2 separate regions of the Homo sapiens genome follow, and region 1 is linked to region 2. The links come from fine-mapping of genetic effects on gene expression. Tissue or cell type: spleen. Region 2 holds a variant in brackets; the other region holds the start of a gene. All regions are shown on one strand. Distances are from middle to middle.

The links. PIP is the estimated chance that this variant, and not a neighbour inherited with it, causes the effect.
Region 1: CDH4 starts here. The variant in region 2 is fine-mapped to the expression of CDH4 in spleen (GTEx, PIP above 0.99).

What each region holds. Positions count from the first base shown.
Region 1 is chr20:61,247,470-61,255,647 of GRCh38, forward strand. CDH4 (cadherin 4) reads left to right here and starts at 4,792. Exons shown (of 16, transcript NM_001794.5): 1 at 4,792-5,101; 2 at 7,357-7,468. The coding sequence starts at 5,045. RefSeq lists an enhancer at 6,896-7,588.
Region 2 is chr20:61,346,065-61,354,242 of GRCh38, forward strand. All of the region lies in intron 2 of CDH4 (cadherin 4), which reads left to right. Among named protein-coding and RNA genes, the nearest start is that of CDH4, 98 kb to the left of the region's middle. RefSeq lists an enhancer at 7,659-8,178. The variant T/C (reference allele first, on the strand shown) is at 3,934.

The DNA.
Region 1 (8,178 bases), 99 kb before region 2:
CCACCCATGTCAGCGGCTCCCGCTCCAGCAGAGGTTACCCTGACCTCCTTTCTCCTCTGTCAAGCTGCTTCTATAAACCAGCCAGAGACAAGGCAGACATGATGCGAGGTGGAGCCAGGGCCCTGTCGTTGGCCTCCCTGTGACACGTGTGTCTCTGCTCCCACCTCTGGTGTTCCCCCCTTTTTAACAGCAGACAAGAAACAAACAAGCAAAGCAACAACATGGAACAAACAAAAGCCCTGGGATCTCAAAACGGCCCCTCCCCATCTTCTGTTGCCAGGACGCATCTCCCTTCTCCAGCAGATCCGATACCTTTGATTGTTGCATGGTTTGACTGTTTTGTTTTGAATTTTTTTCCCCTTGTGAATTGCATCTCCTGCTCCATGGAAATTTCCAAAGATTCAAAGACCCCCAAGTCCCAGGGGAGTGAGAGAAGCAGCCTCACCTGGTTCTTCCTCAGAACCCAGAGTGCATGGTGTGCTTCTTTGGAGCACAGTCATGACTAAGGCTGTAAGTCTGAACTCAGCCAGCCCTGGGTTCCAGGTCAAGCTCCTCCCCTCTTTTCATGCCTCAGTGTCTTCATCTGTATAATGGGGGAGTGCAGGAAGTACCCCAGGGTACAGTGCAGCCAGTGGGGGTCATCGTTGGTATCATTGCTTTATGGGTCCACCCCCTGGGGGCTCCTAGAGGGTTAGAGCCTGGGCCACATGTGGAGAGGGGAACACCCTGTTCCCCCACCCTCAAGGCTCTCGGAGTGGCCAGAGGGCGGACACACAGAAAGGAGCTCCACCACACTGTGAGGAGAGAGGTGTCCACCAAGCCCTGCAGCAGCTAAAGCCAACACAGTGCTCCGAGAGAAAGGAGCTCCGGAGGGAGCAGCAGAGGCACAGGCACAGAGCCTGGATGGGGGCGTGTGCTTCTGGATGGACTAGAGGGTCAGGATTCTGCTGGTGGCGAGTGGGCCAGGCTGAGCATGAGACTGGAAAAGGAAAGAAGACAGCCCTAGGTTGGAAGGGGACATTTGCATCTTTCCCCCTGGGATTTCTGCTTCCAAGGGATGCACCTCACAGCCATGCCCCCAGGTCCTAAGTCACGCTGCCTGGAGTAGAATCTCAGCCCACCCCGTGCCGGCGGGTGACCCAGGCCAGGCTGCTCACATACCCAAGTCTGTCCTGTCTGTGGACCATGGGCATCACCACCTCCGTCCTATGTGAGGATCGCATGGGATCATGACTGAAAACCTTCGACACAGTACCTGCCACACAGTACATAGGGATCCCTGTTCATGGAGAAAGATAGATTTTGAAAAACCTACAACAATAACTCTATTCCTTTCTTTATTCCCAGTGTAGCTTCACCTCAGCGGGTGAGCGTTATTGGAATGGAAGGCAGGGAGCGATCTGTACTGGTCTCTCTGCTGCCTGCTCGCCCCTCTCAATCTCTCCTTTGCTTTTTGCTTTAAGATCGCTCTTCTCTATTGCATGCAGGGAGTTTTCTTGAGCTGGGTAGCAGGCTGATTCCATTCATTTCTACAGTGCCTTGAATATCTTCAATCGCCCACAAAGACAATGTTTTATTCTACGAACACACCTTTTGCCAACATCTCACTGCTTTCTGTACAAAACAGCCTTTTTGTCGAACATTGAAGTGTCTACAATAATAACTATCAATAGGGAAGGAAACAAATTAACATCCAACGAATATAGGGAAATGTGGCCCTGATACAAGCACTTGGTTTTTGCTTCTAAAGAGGAACCCCTTCCCAGACTCACCTCATCGAGAGGGAGACAGAGAAGTCTATCAAGCTTAGCAAACATCTGTAGTCCAATTACTGTCAACAGTTTACAGGTGTTGAGAGCAAACAGTCACTTATACACTACCTCCCAAATGCATTCTCTTAATCTCTCTTAGAAACAAACGCACACATTTTTCTAGGGCTCTTTATCCAAAGTGCAGAGAGACTAGCTCCTCCTCCAGGCCAGCTGTGGTCTTCCCTGCACTGGGTGGACCAAAGGCAGGCCACAGTCCCACTGGCCAATGTGCCAAACACTGTGCCAGGGTTTCTCCAGCTACCCCAGGCAGAGGCCCAGGCTCCACCCCTGGAGGTCCAGGTTCTGGAAATCCAGGGTGGGGCATAGGAGAGAGCATTTTTCTGATGCTTCCAGCTGCTGCTCTGTTACGTGGGACATACTGTCTGTGGGACAGGCCGTGATTCTCAAATGCTAGTGGCATGAGCATGGACTGGAGAGATTGTTACAAGGTCAGCTTCCAGGCCCCACTTGCAAAAGCTCCAAGTCCATGGATTTCAGGTGGAGCCTAGGAACTGGCATTTTTCATGAGTTTCTCTGTGATTTTGTTGCAGATGATTGCAGACCAGAGGTGGGCGTGGCGGGGAATCCCATCAGCATTCAGAATCAATGTAGCAGGTCTGGGGTAAGGCCTGAGTTTCTGCATTTTTAACAAGCTCCTGGGGGATCTTGATGCTGCTGGTCTGGGGACCACACTCAGAGTGACAGGCTGAAGACCATTCTTTGGAGGCACTGCTTTGTATTTTAGGTCATATTTTTCTTTTCTGTCTCAGCAATCTTTGCTGCTGCATTCAGAGTAAGTCTGATAAACCAATGCTCTCTACTGGACTCCTGTCAGTTACTGCAGTGTTTCTGAAACTATGTATTTCGGAAAATGCGAGTTCCCGTAAGACATTACAGCTGTGTAAGAAGGTTTCTTTGAACAAAGTTGGGGCCATGCTGCGTGTGCCAGGGTCCCAGCTCTGGGTGAGAATGCTGGCACTGCAGCTTTCCCCGTGCCTGCCCTCTGCACCCTCCTCTGCCTGACTGTATAGTGGAGTTAGAAGGACTCCAAGAGCAACTTTACATAAAGCTCCTACACATGTCCCTGGCACATAGCTAGCACCTTGTAAGGACAGGCTATTGTCAAACTCTACCCTTTCTGGAAATCACGCTGCAGTAGACTCAAGATTCATTCAGTAGTAGAGGGAGATGTGCTTAACACAGTGTTTGGAGTTCAGGACCCACCTGCTCCTGGACCCCAGTCTCCCTGCCACACACTCATACCTTTTCTTTTTCAAATTGGCGCGCTCCTCAGCGCTTCAACAGTTTCGCAGAGCACGTTGGAGCAAATGCGGGGGTCTGTGATGCCTCTCCAAAGAAATAACTCGCATAATGCTCAGGCCTCCTGCAGACAAAGGTGTATCCCCAGCGACAGATATTTTAAGAAAATAGACCAGGGACACAAGACAAGAGAGCTGTCTTGGTGTCTAAAGCAGTCTTGGACAGCTTCTGATGTCGCTCGAGCAGTGGTGAAGCACCTTGAATAAGGAGGAAAGCAGAGGGGGCGTCTTCCCAAAGGACGGGCACATGGCCGAGGAATGGAATTCTCTGTCCATGAGGATTTTGGATGGATCTGTTCATGAAACCTCACTGGCTACGCAGGACCTTCGAGTGAGTCTAAACCTCCAGCCATGTCAACTGGTAACCTCTCCTTCTTCGGCTAGGTGGGGAGTGGGACAAGGCCATAACTGATAGGAGTCCAGGCTGGGGCAGATTTTGTGTCTCCTGACTAGTTCCATAGTTAAGTTGCAAAACCGAATCTCGCCTTGTGCTCTCGGATGTAGTGCTTACTCTGGTCCTCTGGGGTTATCTAAAATCTGGTTTCCTTAAGCGTAAGGCAGAGCTCTAACCGGGAGACCACCCTGCCCCCAAGGGTGGGGGTTCTGGGAGGGAGAGAGGGAAGCGGCTGCTCTGTAGCTTTCTCTACTGGCTTGCCCAAGTGGACTCTGATCTTGGAGCTCAACAGTGTCACTCAATCTTCCACCCTCTCCTTTGCAACCTATTTCTTAAACCAGAACTAATGTATTCTGGACACAGAGTCCCTGAAACCCCAGACAAAGAAAATTCGATGTATCTGAACAAACAAAACCGCGTTTCTTTAAATCTCCAAGCCAAAAGGAAAAGTGCAGAAACATTTACTCACTGTCCGACCTGTACATATATTTTACCTGATAACCCTTAAAGAAGTGCCCCCCAGTTCAGCCATCACCCATGCAGGGCAAAGGGAGCTGGAGCTGGCCCAGCCTGTCGGCGCAGACACTCCTGACAGCTCCTGTCTGGGCACTTCTTTCTTTCTTGGAGCTTCTAATTTCTTTCTTGGCTTCTGAGGCCTAACAGGGTGTTTTGATGCACACACAGGAATTACTACCGTCCCCAATCCTAGGGTACATCCCTAGCCCAGGCCAGGGCTTTGAGTTTTCCTAGGAGCGGGAGGGTCTGCAAAGCCCCACAGGCTGAAATCTCAGCGTGGCCCTCTGCTCATCTGCTCCAGGTGGAAACTCTCACCCCTGAGCTGCCCGACCTGGGTTCAAGCCCGGGTCAGGGGAGTTAGCAAGGAGACACCTGAAAAATAAAAGGACAGAATGGAAGTGCACACTCCCACCGCGGGCCCGGGCGGGAAGTCGGACTAAGACCGCGGCGGGACCGCCCCATCCAGAAAGGGTGCCCCGGGTGTGGGGGCGGAAACCCCAGCGCTGTCTTCAGTCTCCACACCCGCGCCTTTTTCCCCTGGAAAACGAGCGTCCTTGGCCTCTTCGGCCGCAACCGGGCGGCTCCAGACGTCCAGGAGGGCAGAGGCTGGGCTGGTGCGGCGCGGGGGGCGCGGGCGCGGGCTCTGCGCCTTTAAGGCCCGCGTCGGCAGAGCGAGCGCAGGGGCCGGGCGGCGGGGCGGGGCCTCGGCGGGGCGGCCGCGGCTTCACCTGCAGCTCCGAGCGCGCGGAACAGAGGCGCGGGCGGCTGCGAGGCCGGCGGACGCACCGGCCCGAGGGAACGCGCCGCCGGCCGGACTTGGCCTGGCTCCCGGAGCCGGGGCGGCGAGCGCGGCGGGCGCAGCGGGGCTGGAGGCTCCGGGCAGGCGCGGGGGAGCGGCGGCGGCGGCGGCGATCGGAGCGGCGGCGGTGGTCTCGGCGGCGGCGGCGGCGGCGGCGGCAGGGAGCGGGCTCCCGGTGCCGGGCACCGGGCGGGCGGCGGGGAAGATGACCGCGGGCGCCGGCGTGCTCCTTCTGCTGCTCTCGCTCTCCGGCGCGCTCCGGGTAAGTTGCCGCCTCCCGCCCCCGCCGTTCGGAAGCCCCGGGCAGCGGGAGGTCGTCCCCGGATCCCGCGGGGCGCTCACACACCCGGCGGGGCTCTCCCGGGCTCCCCCGCCGCGCTCCCCGCTGCATCCAGCCCGGCGCCCGCGCTCGGCGAAGCTGCCTGCGGTCGGCAGGAGCGGGAAGCCGCCTGGGCAGCGGGGAGCGGCGGAGCAGGGTGGGAGTGGGGCTCGGTGGAGGACCCGGGGAGCTCCGCCTGCACCGGACCCGCCGAGCCTCCCTCGAACGCCCAAAGCCCGTAGCCGCTACCCGGAGCTCGGCTTGCCTGCATGGGGCAGGCTTCCACTGGCGGAGCCGGCGCGCCCTCCATCGCCCGGGAGCCGCGCGCCGCGGGAGTTGCCGAGCCCAGCCCCGGCCGTGGCTGAAGGCGTGGGGCGCCCGGCGGCTGCGGGCCAGGGATCCGCGAGTGCGGGGCGCCTGCCCGACCTCTCCTGCCCAAGGCCTGGGGGTCCGTCTAGCGGCGCCGCTCAGTTCTGTGGGTGCCGGCAGGACCCGCGCTGCGGGTGGGCGGCGGGGTAGGACTGCGGGGCACTCTCACCCCCGAGCCCTCGGCGGGGCTGGAGCCTGCGTGTCCGGCGGGGCCCCGGGGGCTGGGAGCTGGGCCGGGCTTGGGCCGGGAAGCCGGACGCCGGGCGGGCGCGGCGCGGGAGGGCGCCCCGGGAGGGCGAGCGGGTCTCCCGCTGCCTCTGCAGAGCCCCGCGGGCCGGATTGCCAGCTTTGCTCTGCGCCTGGCGAGGTGCGCGGCCCGCGGGGGCAGAGAGCGCGGCGGCTCCGGGGGCGCCCCTGGGCGGAGGCGGAGGGGCGGCGGGAGTTGCAGGAACCCCCTCTCGTGGCCGATCGGCCTCGCTGCCTTCTCCCGGGCAGCGCTGTTGTAACCTCGGAAATAAACAAGTGCCAGCGGCGGGAGGCCCGCTCCGAGGCCGCGGGGCGCTGGGGGACGCGCTGGGCACACGCTTCGGGCGGGCGGAAACTTTCCTGGGCGAGTTGAGCCTCCCACCGGGCTGCGGGTGCGATTTGGAGCTTCGTGGCCGATGAAGAAAGCCGCGGTTTAGAGCTTTTCGTAAGGAATGACCCTGCGTCCCGCTCTCCTCCCTCGGTGCTGGGGGTAGAGGGGCGCCCTCCGCGGTGCCGGCGTCGGGAAGCCTGGAGCTCCGGGCTGGGGGCGGCCTCCGGAGTCGAAGCATGGGCGGGCGACGGCAGCGCGCGGAGCTGGAGGAGGCGGCGGGCGGGAGGCGCCACTGCCCGGTGCGGGCTGCACCCGAGGCTTCCTGCGCTCGCCGGGGAGCCAAGCACCGCTGTGCTCCTGCTCCTTCAGCGGGGCTGGCTTCCCGCTTGCACACACTGCCTCTCCCTCCACCACCTCCTCCTGCCTGTCACGCCCCCTCCCAGAAGCTTGGTCGGAGGGCCCTGTCGTCCACCCCATCCTTCCCTGGCCCTGTGCCATGGGCTCTAGACTTCCCCACTGAGCAGGAAAGGCGAGCGAGCTCCGGAGGACAGGAGGAGACCCCCTTTCCGGTCAGTTAGGGGAGCCGTCTCCCTGCCTGGGCTGGAGATGGGGGCTCCGAGGGTGAAAATGCGGGCTGAAGACTAGAAGGTGGAAGCGCCCCCACTGCCTCCTCACCCCAGCCACCGGCAGCCTCCCGCAGAGCTGCCTTCTTCGACCGGCTCCGGACCTAGTCCTAGAGAATCTTCTTCCTTTCTCTCCTCTTTCTCCTCCCTCCCGGTGACCTGGAGAGGAGACAAGAAGCTGCCTCCTCCGCCTTACCAAGAGCGCAGAGCGGTGGGCCTAAAGCGCGAATGGTCTGAGCAGAGCCGCCCACACTTTGGCCTCCCTGCCCTTAGTGGCTTCGGGAGCAGCGGCTGAAGTCTTCTGTCTCTGCCTTTTGGTCATTTCTCAGGCGTCTCCTCTGCCAATAAGGCCCTGGCCGGCCTGGCTTCCCCAACAGTCCGTCCTTCACTCCCTGCCTGCTGTGTGTGGGGCTGGGGAAGGATGCTCCTGGTCTGTAGCCTGGAGAGTGCTCCCTAAAGTCCCCAGAGAGCAGAGGAGCAGACGGGGTATCGCGTCTGGGTGGAGACGGTGGCCTGCCAGCCTTTCTCTCTTAGCCAGAGACCTTTTACACAGCAGGCCCTGGATGAATGTTGGTTGGATTAAATTTCTGTGAACTTATTGTTTTACACTCTCCCCTTTGTGTTCTCAGGCCCATAATGAGGATCTTACAACTAGAGAGACCTGCAAGGCTGGGTTCTCTGAAGATGATTACACGGCATTAATCTCCCAAAATATTCTAGAAGGGGAAAAGCTACTTCAAGGTAAGGCGGGGTGTGGAGGGGTGGGAGTGAATTGCTGCCATGCTTTTCCTTGGGGAAACATGTAGATGGGAGAGGCAAGGCTTGCCTCATCTTTGTGCTCTCTGTGAAATGATGGTGGTGAAGTCCACGAGGTGCAAATTGGTTGACCTGAAAGGCGTTTTGCATAACAGGTGAATGATTCAGAACCCCGGTCATTTTTGAGTGAAGTGAATCATTTCCTGGGCAGCAAACTGTAATTCGGATGTAACATCACCCAAATAGTGTGCAGAGAGAGACCTTCTTACCAAGTATTTTTATGCATGAAGTTCTGGATACTTAAATTATCCCTGCTTTGAAATGTATGATAAAGCAGACGATGTTGTTGGAAATGCGGTAAATAAGCCCACAGACGGTCTGTTCACAAATGTGGCATTCATTTTCATTACTGCCCCACTGACAACACGAAAACACACATGCAGGAGGGAACTACCAATTAGCTTTATCGTAATTGCAGGATTATATCCACACTTGTGATGGGAAAGTCAGAGACAGCTTCAAAACTCAGATGACAGTAGATCATCCTGCTTATTGGTCTGTTTCCCTTTCAAGACAAACTAATTAGACTTTATATTTGCATAGGAGGGGACATAAATCAGTTCTGTGCCATGAGCACCTTGGCTGTGAGCCTTTCCTCTCTGCATCAGTTTCCTGGAAGTGGCAGCCTTTGAATT
Region 2 (8,178 bases):
AAATTAACCCACGCGGGATAAATGCTGCAGGGAAACCAGCATCATGGGCTGGAGGCTGAGGGGTGATGTGCAGTCAGGACAGTCTCTCTCAGGGTGAGGTGGTCATTCCATTCTGTCAGGCCCTGGGGCTGAGTGTGTCTGGAAGAGGGAACAGCAGAGGCAGGGGACTGAGACCAGGATAGTCAGGAGGTCCTAGAGGAACCACAAGACGGCCCCAGGGGCCATGAGTAGAATCAGTGCATGGTTGGTGTGGTCGGAGGGAGGCAGGGATCAGCCAGGCCAGCCATGGGAGCCCCAGCAAGGAGCTTGGGCTGCATTCCCACGGCCATGAGGAGGCTTTGGAGGGTCTGAGCAGGAACGTGCTGTTGGATTTGAGGTTTAAATTAACCCCTCTGCTGACCGGGCATGGTGGCTCACGCCTGTAATCCCAGCACTTTGGGAGGCTGAGGCAGGCGGATCACCTGAGGCCAGGAGTTCAACACTAGCCTGGCCAACATGGCGAAACCCCATCTCTACTAAAAATACAAAAATTAGCTGGGCGTGGTGGCACGTGCCTGTAGTCCCAGCTACTCAGTAGGCTGAGGCAGGAGAATCACTTGAACCCAGGAAGCGGAGGTTTCAGTGAGCTGAGATCACACCACTGCACTCCAGCCTGGGTGACAGAGCGAGACTCTGTCAAAAAAAAAAAAAAAATTAACCCCTCTGCTGTGGCATGAGAATGGATTCCGGGGGCCAGGGTGCAGCAGGAAGCCAGGCTCTGCGCTATGCAGGTGAGAGGCGACGGTGAGTGGGCCAGGGTGGGAATTAGATCATATTGACTCCACGTACGGGTGCCCCCCATCTGTCCCTCATCCCCATCCCACATTCCCAGGCAGTTCTGCTTGCTCCCCTGCAGATTGGCACACATGTCTCATAAACCATCTCTCCCATTGTCTAATAACATGGTTTCATGGCTGTCTCCTCCATTAGCCCAAGGGTTCTTCAAGGTCAGTACCACGTTTTACTAACTTCATCTGTAGAACCCAGTGTAGGGCCCGAACTCCCAGCAGGAACCTACATTACCCCTGACTCATGGACTGCGGTTCTCAGAACCTGACCTCTGTGGGAGACCAAAGTCATAGCCTCGTGCCCCACATGGCCGTGAGGCCCTGCCCGCATTCAGAAGACAGGTGACAGCCCGTGCCGCTGCCTGGCTAAATGCTTGCTCCACACATTTTACTAGTGGCGGCTGAGTCTGCGTGATGGCCAACGTGGTTTTAGAAATATACACCTAGATTAGATGAGGCTTCTGTCTTAGATGATTCCAAATGTTCTTACTTGGATTTTGCTTAAAGGAAAAACAAAACTATCTACACATTTCCCCCTCTTCATACTTTACCAAAAAGAAAGAGAAAAAATGTAAGAGGATATTGACTCCCACGATGCTTCCTGCGGTGACTAAATATAAATATGTATGACAGATCGCAGAAGGAATCATTAATGGCAGCTGTCAGTGCTATTTAAAATGAATTAGACCTTTCCAGTTTCCCTCTAGTGTGAGCGCTGAGAGACACATAAGGCTGTTCTGATTCATCGTGGACCTGGAAGTCCATTGTTCAGCTTAGTCGGGAGATGTATATGCTTATCAGGCAAAATAAGCTGGCGGGGGCTGGTGTTTGCGAAGCGCCAACTCGCCTTCTTTGTCTCATAACATTTGGCGGGGTGTGCTTTCCTGGTTCGGCACGGGACATTGGTCTCTTCAACTTCAGCTGATTTGAATTGGGACCCACAAACCAGGTGGGAAGCATGGCGTTTGAACCGTGCCTGGAATATCAGATGAGTCCTGTGTCTGCAAAGTCTGATAGTCAGAGGGAATAACAAGTCCTTAAAATGAGGAACAGCCCTTTCCATGGTTAAAGGGAAGAGTGGAAACCCACGTGTGTATTATCGGGGAAGACTTTCTTCTGGGAACAGGTGTGCCTGTAACATGGTGACTTCCCACTGGTCTGTTTCGCCCCATAATGGTAAGCATTCCTACATTTGGAGAGAGTAGGTATATTAGTCTGTTCTTACACTGCTAATAAAGACATACCTGAGACTGGGTCATTTATAAAGGAAAGAGGTTTAATGGACTCGCAGTTCCACATGGCTTGGAAGGTCTTACATTCATGGTGGAAGGCAAAGGAGGAGCTAAGGCACATCTTACATGGTGGCAGGCAAAAGAGCATGTGCAGGGGACTCCCCTTTATCAAATCATCAGATCCCATGAGACTTATTCGCTATCACGAGAACAGCACGGGAAAGACCCACCCCCATGATTCAATTACCTCCCACGGGGTCCCTCCCATGACACATGGGAATTATGGGAGCTACAATTCAAGATGAGATTTGGCTGGGGACATAGCCAGACCATATCAATAGGAGACAAGGGAACTGTTGCCAGCGGTTCCCTCCACCAAGACCTAGAGAGACTGAATGCTGCCCACTTTTTCTCATCTTAAAGCTGAGCTTCCAGTGAGAGCTTCACTTCTGTTCTCTTTAATTTTCTTTCACTTCCGGTGTTTAAATAACCCAGGATCAGTTTATGTATCATGATATCTTCTTTCAATAATCTGGCTGAATCTCTCCAAATGGCTGGGAGTTTATGGCCCTGGGCAGGTGGACGAGTGGGCAGAAGTGAGAACAGGACTTCAGGAAGTATAAAAGCTCTTGTCACTTCCAAAGGGCCTCTTTCTTCCTGGCTTTGAAATAAACCCTCTGATGGCCGCCAGTAACTGTTTCTCTCTCAAGTATGGAAGAGAAAGCCATTTGGATTTTTGGATGTAATTGACACAGGGTCTCTAAAAGTTCTTGTTTGTTTTTCGTTTGTTTTGGGACTACATTTGAAAGAAGAGGCATAGAGACCCGCAGCCCCTCCTGTCCTGGCTGCCCAGGGCTTCTGGGAATAACAGTGGTGGTGGGAGGGCCACATTGTGCCGCAATTGTTCCTTTATGTAGTTAGCTTCCTGTTTTATTTTATGCTGTGCGGCCCCAGCATCCAGGGTTTTGTGCTTGGAAGATCACACGTATGTCATGGGACAGAGTTCCTGTCTATATGGAACATGGGCCACTTCTCAGGAACCGGCCTGCAGCCCCGATGGACAGGCTGGGTCATCAGGAACAGACAGCGGGGACCCTGCAGGGCCACATATGCTCTACCTGCCCCAACCCAAGGCTGCTCCGTAGCCGTGGAGTTGGTGGTTCTGGGGAGAAAGGTGGCTGCAACCTGGGATTCAGCCCCAGCTCCGCAGCCGGGTGTGGCAGCTCCTGTGCTGGGTAGGATTCAGCACATCTGGGCTGAAGTTTTCATCTTGAGCACCAGCTAATGTTTGATGTGAATTGAATCATAGGGAGAAAATGCCCACTTGAGGCGTGAGCCAGTTAATTTACAAAGTCAGTGAGGGAAAATCCTGCAGGTGCCCGGGAAGGGTGAGCGCAGAGCCAGGATCCAGACGAGGCCGGGAGCTGGGGTGCTGGCTGATGTCCCCGTTGCTGGATGCTGCTGGATGTGTATGGACCTGGGGTATGGCACAGCAGGCCTCATCGGGAGGTCTGTGGAGTGAAAGCTGGGGCTCCCCACAGCTCCCTTCCATGCCCCGTGAGGCACGCCCTTGTGTTATAAAGAATCACACAGTCCCTCGTGGAGACGGCTCTCAGGGGCAGTCTTGCTGATCCTTCTGCAAATAAGACCCCTCTGAGGCCAACCATGTACGTGGAAAGGAGCATGTGCTCCTAAGTTTTCCAGGAGGGGAAAGGACCAAGTTCATGTGGGACCCAGCTCAGAGCACAGCTCACCCCCGGGGCAGGGCAGCTCATGCTACCATTCGAGCGAGTGGTGGCCTCAGTGCCAGACTCAGCCCAGCGCCAGGAACCCAGGAATCCCTCTCCTCCTGCCCCTGCCCACTGGGACAGTCA[T/C]GTCAGGAAGGAACTGGACACATGTGGGCGAGGAGGCAGCCGCCCTCCAGTGCCACAAGGCCAGCGGAATACCTCTGACCTTGCCTCTCCCACCCAGCGTCAGGCAGACACCTCCCCCTCCCCCAGTGCTGCAGAGGCCAGCGGAACACCTCTGACCTTGCCTCTCCCACCCAGCGTCAGGCAGACACCTCCCCCTCCCCCAGTGCTGCAGAGGCCAGCGGAACACCTCTGACCTTGCTTCTCCCACCCAGCGTCAGGCAGACACCTCCCCCTCCCCCAGTGCTGCAGAGGCCAGCGGGACACCTCTGACCTTGCCTCTCCCACCCAGCGTCAGGCAGACACCTCCCCCTCCCCCAGTGCTGCAGAGGCCAGCGGAACACCTCTGACCTTGCCTCTCCCACCCAGCGTCAGGCAGACACCTCCCCCTCCCCCAGTGCTGCAGAGGCCAGCGGAACACCTCTGACCTTGCCTCTCCCACCCAGCGTCAGGCAGACACCTCCCCCTCCCCCAGTGCTGCAGAGGCCAGCGGAACACCTCTGACCTTGCCTCTCCCACCCAGGGTCAGGCAGGCCCCCCACAGTGCTGCAGAGGCCAGCGGGACACCTCTGACCTTGCCTTTCCCACCCAGAGTCAGGCAGATCCCTGCCCTCTCCCAGTGCCATGATGCCAGCAGGACACCTCTGACCTTGCCTCTCCCACCCAGCATCAGGCAGAGGCCCCCCCCCAGTGCTAACTGCGCCCTCAAGTGGCCTGGGGAGAAAAGTTGTGTTGTGAGCGGAAAATTGCCACTCTTATGGGAAAGATGATGCTGTGTTGGAAACTCAAGCTTCACTTGGAATTATGATTCCATGAGCATGTCGCATGCTGCCTTTTTTTTATTTTCTAGGAATAATTTTGAAAGGAAATATTGTACACATTGAAGAGTGACTCAATACAGAGACCATCGCTCTAGGCTGAGCCGGTCTGAAGCAGGAACCAGGCATGTGCTGCATCCTGAACGCCAACAAACCTGTGTTCACGGTGGTGCTGGGGTGGCAGCTGTGGTGGGGGCAATGCCTTGGGTGTCACAGCCGCCCTCCCTCCATCCCCGGGCAGCCCGTGCTCAAGGCCTGCTGTCCTCCGTGCTTTCAGATGCTGGGAAGGTCAGGTGATGGCCATTTGCAGGGCTCTGCCTCCCTGGATCAACCAACCACAGATCAGAAATATTCGGAGGAAGAATTGTGCCTGTACTGAACATGGACAGATTTTTTCTTGTCATTCTTCCCTACACAATACAATCTAACAACTGTGTACATAGCATTTACATTGTATTCCATAATATAAGTGATCCAGAGGTGATTTCAAGTCTATGCGAGGGGGTGCCTGGATTCTACGCACACACTGTGCTATTTCGTATCAGGGACTTGGGCGTCTACAGATTTTGGCATGCACGGTGGTAGGTCTTGGAACCAGTCTCCCACTGATACCAAGGGACAGCTGTATACTTTGGCATAAATGACATTTACTAGACATATAGTTCTGCAACTTACTTTTGTTGTAATTTTTATTTTTTGAGGCTACACAGCAGGTATGTATGTGTATGGGGGGGACGTGAGATGTTTTGATACAGGCGTAGAATGCACCGTAATCATATCAGGGCAATGGGATGCTGTCCCCTCAAGCATTTATCCTTTGTGTAACAAACTAATCCAGTTACACTCCTTTAGTTATTTTTATTTTTATTTATCTTTTTTTTTTTTGAGACAGTCTCACTCTGTCGCCCATGCTGGAGTGCAGTGGCGCAATCTCGGCTCACTGCAACCTCCGCCTCCCAGGTTCAAGCGATTCTGCAGCCTAAGCCTCGCGAGTAGCTGGGACTATGGGCAGGCGCCACCATACCAGGCTAATTTTTGTATTTTTAGTAGAGACGGGGTTTCACCATGTTGGCCAGGCTGGTCTCGAACTCCTGGCCTCAGGTGATCCACCCACCTCGGCCTCCCAAAGTGCTGGGATTACGGGTGTGAGCCACCGCACCCGGCCTCCTTTAGTTATTTTTAAGTGTGCAATTAGATTATTATTGAGTACAGTCACCCTGTTGTGCTAACAAATCCTAGCTCTTCTTCATTCTTTCTAACTTTTTCTGTGCTCACTCACCGTCTGCACTCTGCCCTCACTACCCTTCCCAGCCTCTGGCCACCTTTCTTCTCCTATCTCCATGAGTTCATTTCATTTTTAGCTTCTGTAAATAAGTGACAATGTGCAAAGTTTGTCTTTCTGTCCTGCAACTTACTTTTAAAATTTAATATATATTGAAATACATGCCGTGTCGGAACAAAGAGTTTTACCTCGTTTAAAAAAAATCCCCGATTAAAATTTATTTAGTCATTTTTGGTGACGTTCGTTTGTTGCCAGCATTGTCCCTCATGAGAGCCAGTGTTTTTCCACAATGCAGTGAGCACGTCTGAAAATGTGGCAAACGTCTTTACATTGCTTTAGAAAGGACTGCACTGGCCCCCGTGCCTGCCAGCGGGGTGTGAGCCGCCTGTGGGGCAGCCTCTCCGGTGCGCGGGACGTCCAGCCCTTTTCGTTTCTGACCTGGTGGAAAGAAAACAAAGCTTTGTATTTTGTTTTGATTTCTATCGCCTGGTTCTGCTGGGGTAGGCCGTTTCGTGTTTGAGCCTGTTTGTATATTTCTCCTTGGATGGAGATGTTCTCTAGGGGGCCTGGCTGTTTCTTGTTGGTTTGCAGGCGTTGTTTTCCTAGCCTGCCATTCACTCCCCCCGGTCACCTGCACTGCATTTTCTTCCTGGCCGTCTGCCGCTTGCTGGTTTTCTGCTCTTCGGAGTTCTTCATCCGGCAGTGCAGCCAGGAGCCCATCACCCCGTGCACCTGTGAGACGCTGCGGACAAGGAGTGTGTCAATGTCCCATCCTTGCGGCGCACAGGAGGTTCCAGGACCCAGGAAGCCTCAACATTCTCTCTGCCTGTGTGGCATGCCGGACCAAGGGGCCCCTGGGGCTGAGCTCAGGCTCTGGGGACCCCACGGGCCCCATCTCCTCCCCTCCCCTCTCTTAGCTCCGCAGGTTTCTGACCCGCCACAGGGGCTCTCGCCTGCCCGACTCTGTCCTGCTTCTTCTGCTCCAGCCACAGGCTTCGCTTCTGGTGTTGGCTCTGCTGTGTCTCAGGTTTCCACCTGTGGAAAGCATATACATGATGAATGTGCTACTTCCTCCCCTGGAGGCAAAGCTTAGTTGGTGGGAGGGGTCTCAAGGTTGTGAATGGGGATCTGGGGGTGCAGAGGTGCCAGGGTCTCTGGAACCATGGGGCAGCCGCGTGTCCCTGAAGCAGCCTGTATCTGGACTAATATTTCCTCTTCCATTAAAATTAATTTAGCAATCTCCAGCGATGTGCCAAGCCTTCGCGCATTGCATAATGCCTGCGACTTTGGCCTGTAAATTTATTTCACCACCGTTATCTAACTCTTTACCTTGTAAGCTGCCTTAATACACTGAGCCTTGCAGAATATAATCTTCACAGAAAACCGAATATATTCCACAGCACTGAGAGTGGACATCTCTCAGACTGGTCACTTCTTGTGCATCCTGGCTTTCAATTCAGGTTAATTCCACTTCCTCCTCTTCCTCCTCCTCCTCATCCTCCTCCTCTTCCCCCTCCTCCTCTTCTTCCTCCTCTTCCCCCTCCTCCTCCCCCTCCTCCTCCCCTCCTCCTCCTCCCCTGCTTCCCCTTTTCCTCTGGAAGGTGATGTGAGTGCAGTACGATGATTCACCCCAGTTCACCTTCCACTGGGTGGGAACAGCGCTTCATGCCAGAGCCTGGAATGTGCCCCGTTAGAAACATCCGCAAATGAAAATTGCTTTTTAGCTTGGTTGGTTTAATGAAATTTATCTTTGAGCATAATGGAGAATGATGATTTTTCACCCCAGCAGCCCTGCTTTGTGCTGAAAGGACTTATCTTCTGTGTCAGTGTTGCAGGACTCTGTTTTCCTGCTTGTAGGTGTGAGGAATCGATAATTTACAGGGATGGGGATTATTCTGAAGATTCTATGGCAGTGGTTTTCAACGAGGGGTGATTTTGCCCTCAAGGGACATTCGAGAACGTCTAGGGATGTTGGGTGGTGCTGGCATCGTGTAGGTGGAGGCCAGGGTGCCGCCGACCGTCCTACAGTGCTTAGGACGCCCCCCACCCCCCAGAGGCCCAAATGTCCCAGCGCCGAGGTCGGGCCTGGCTGCTCTAAGGAGCGGAAAT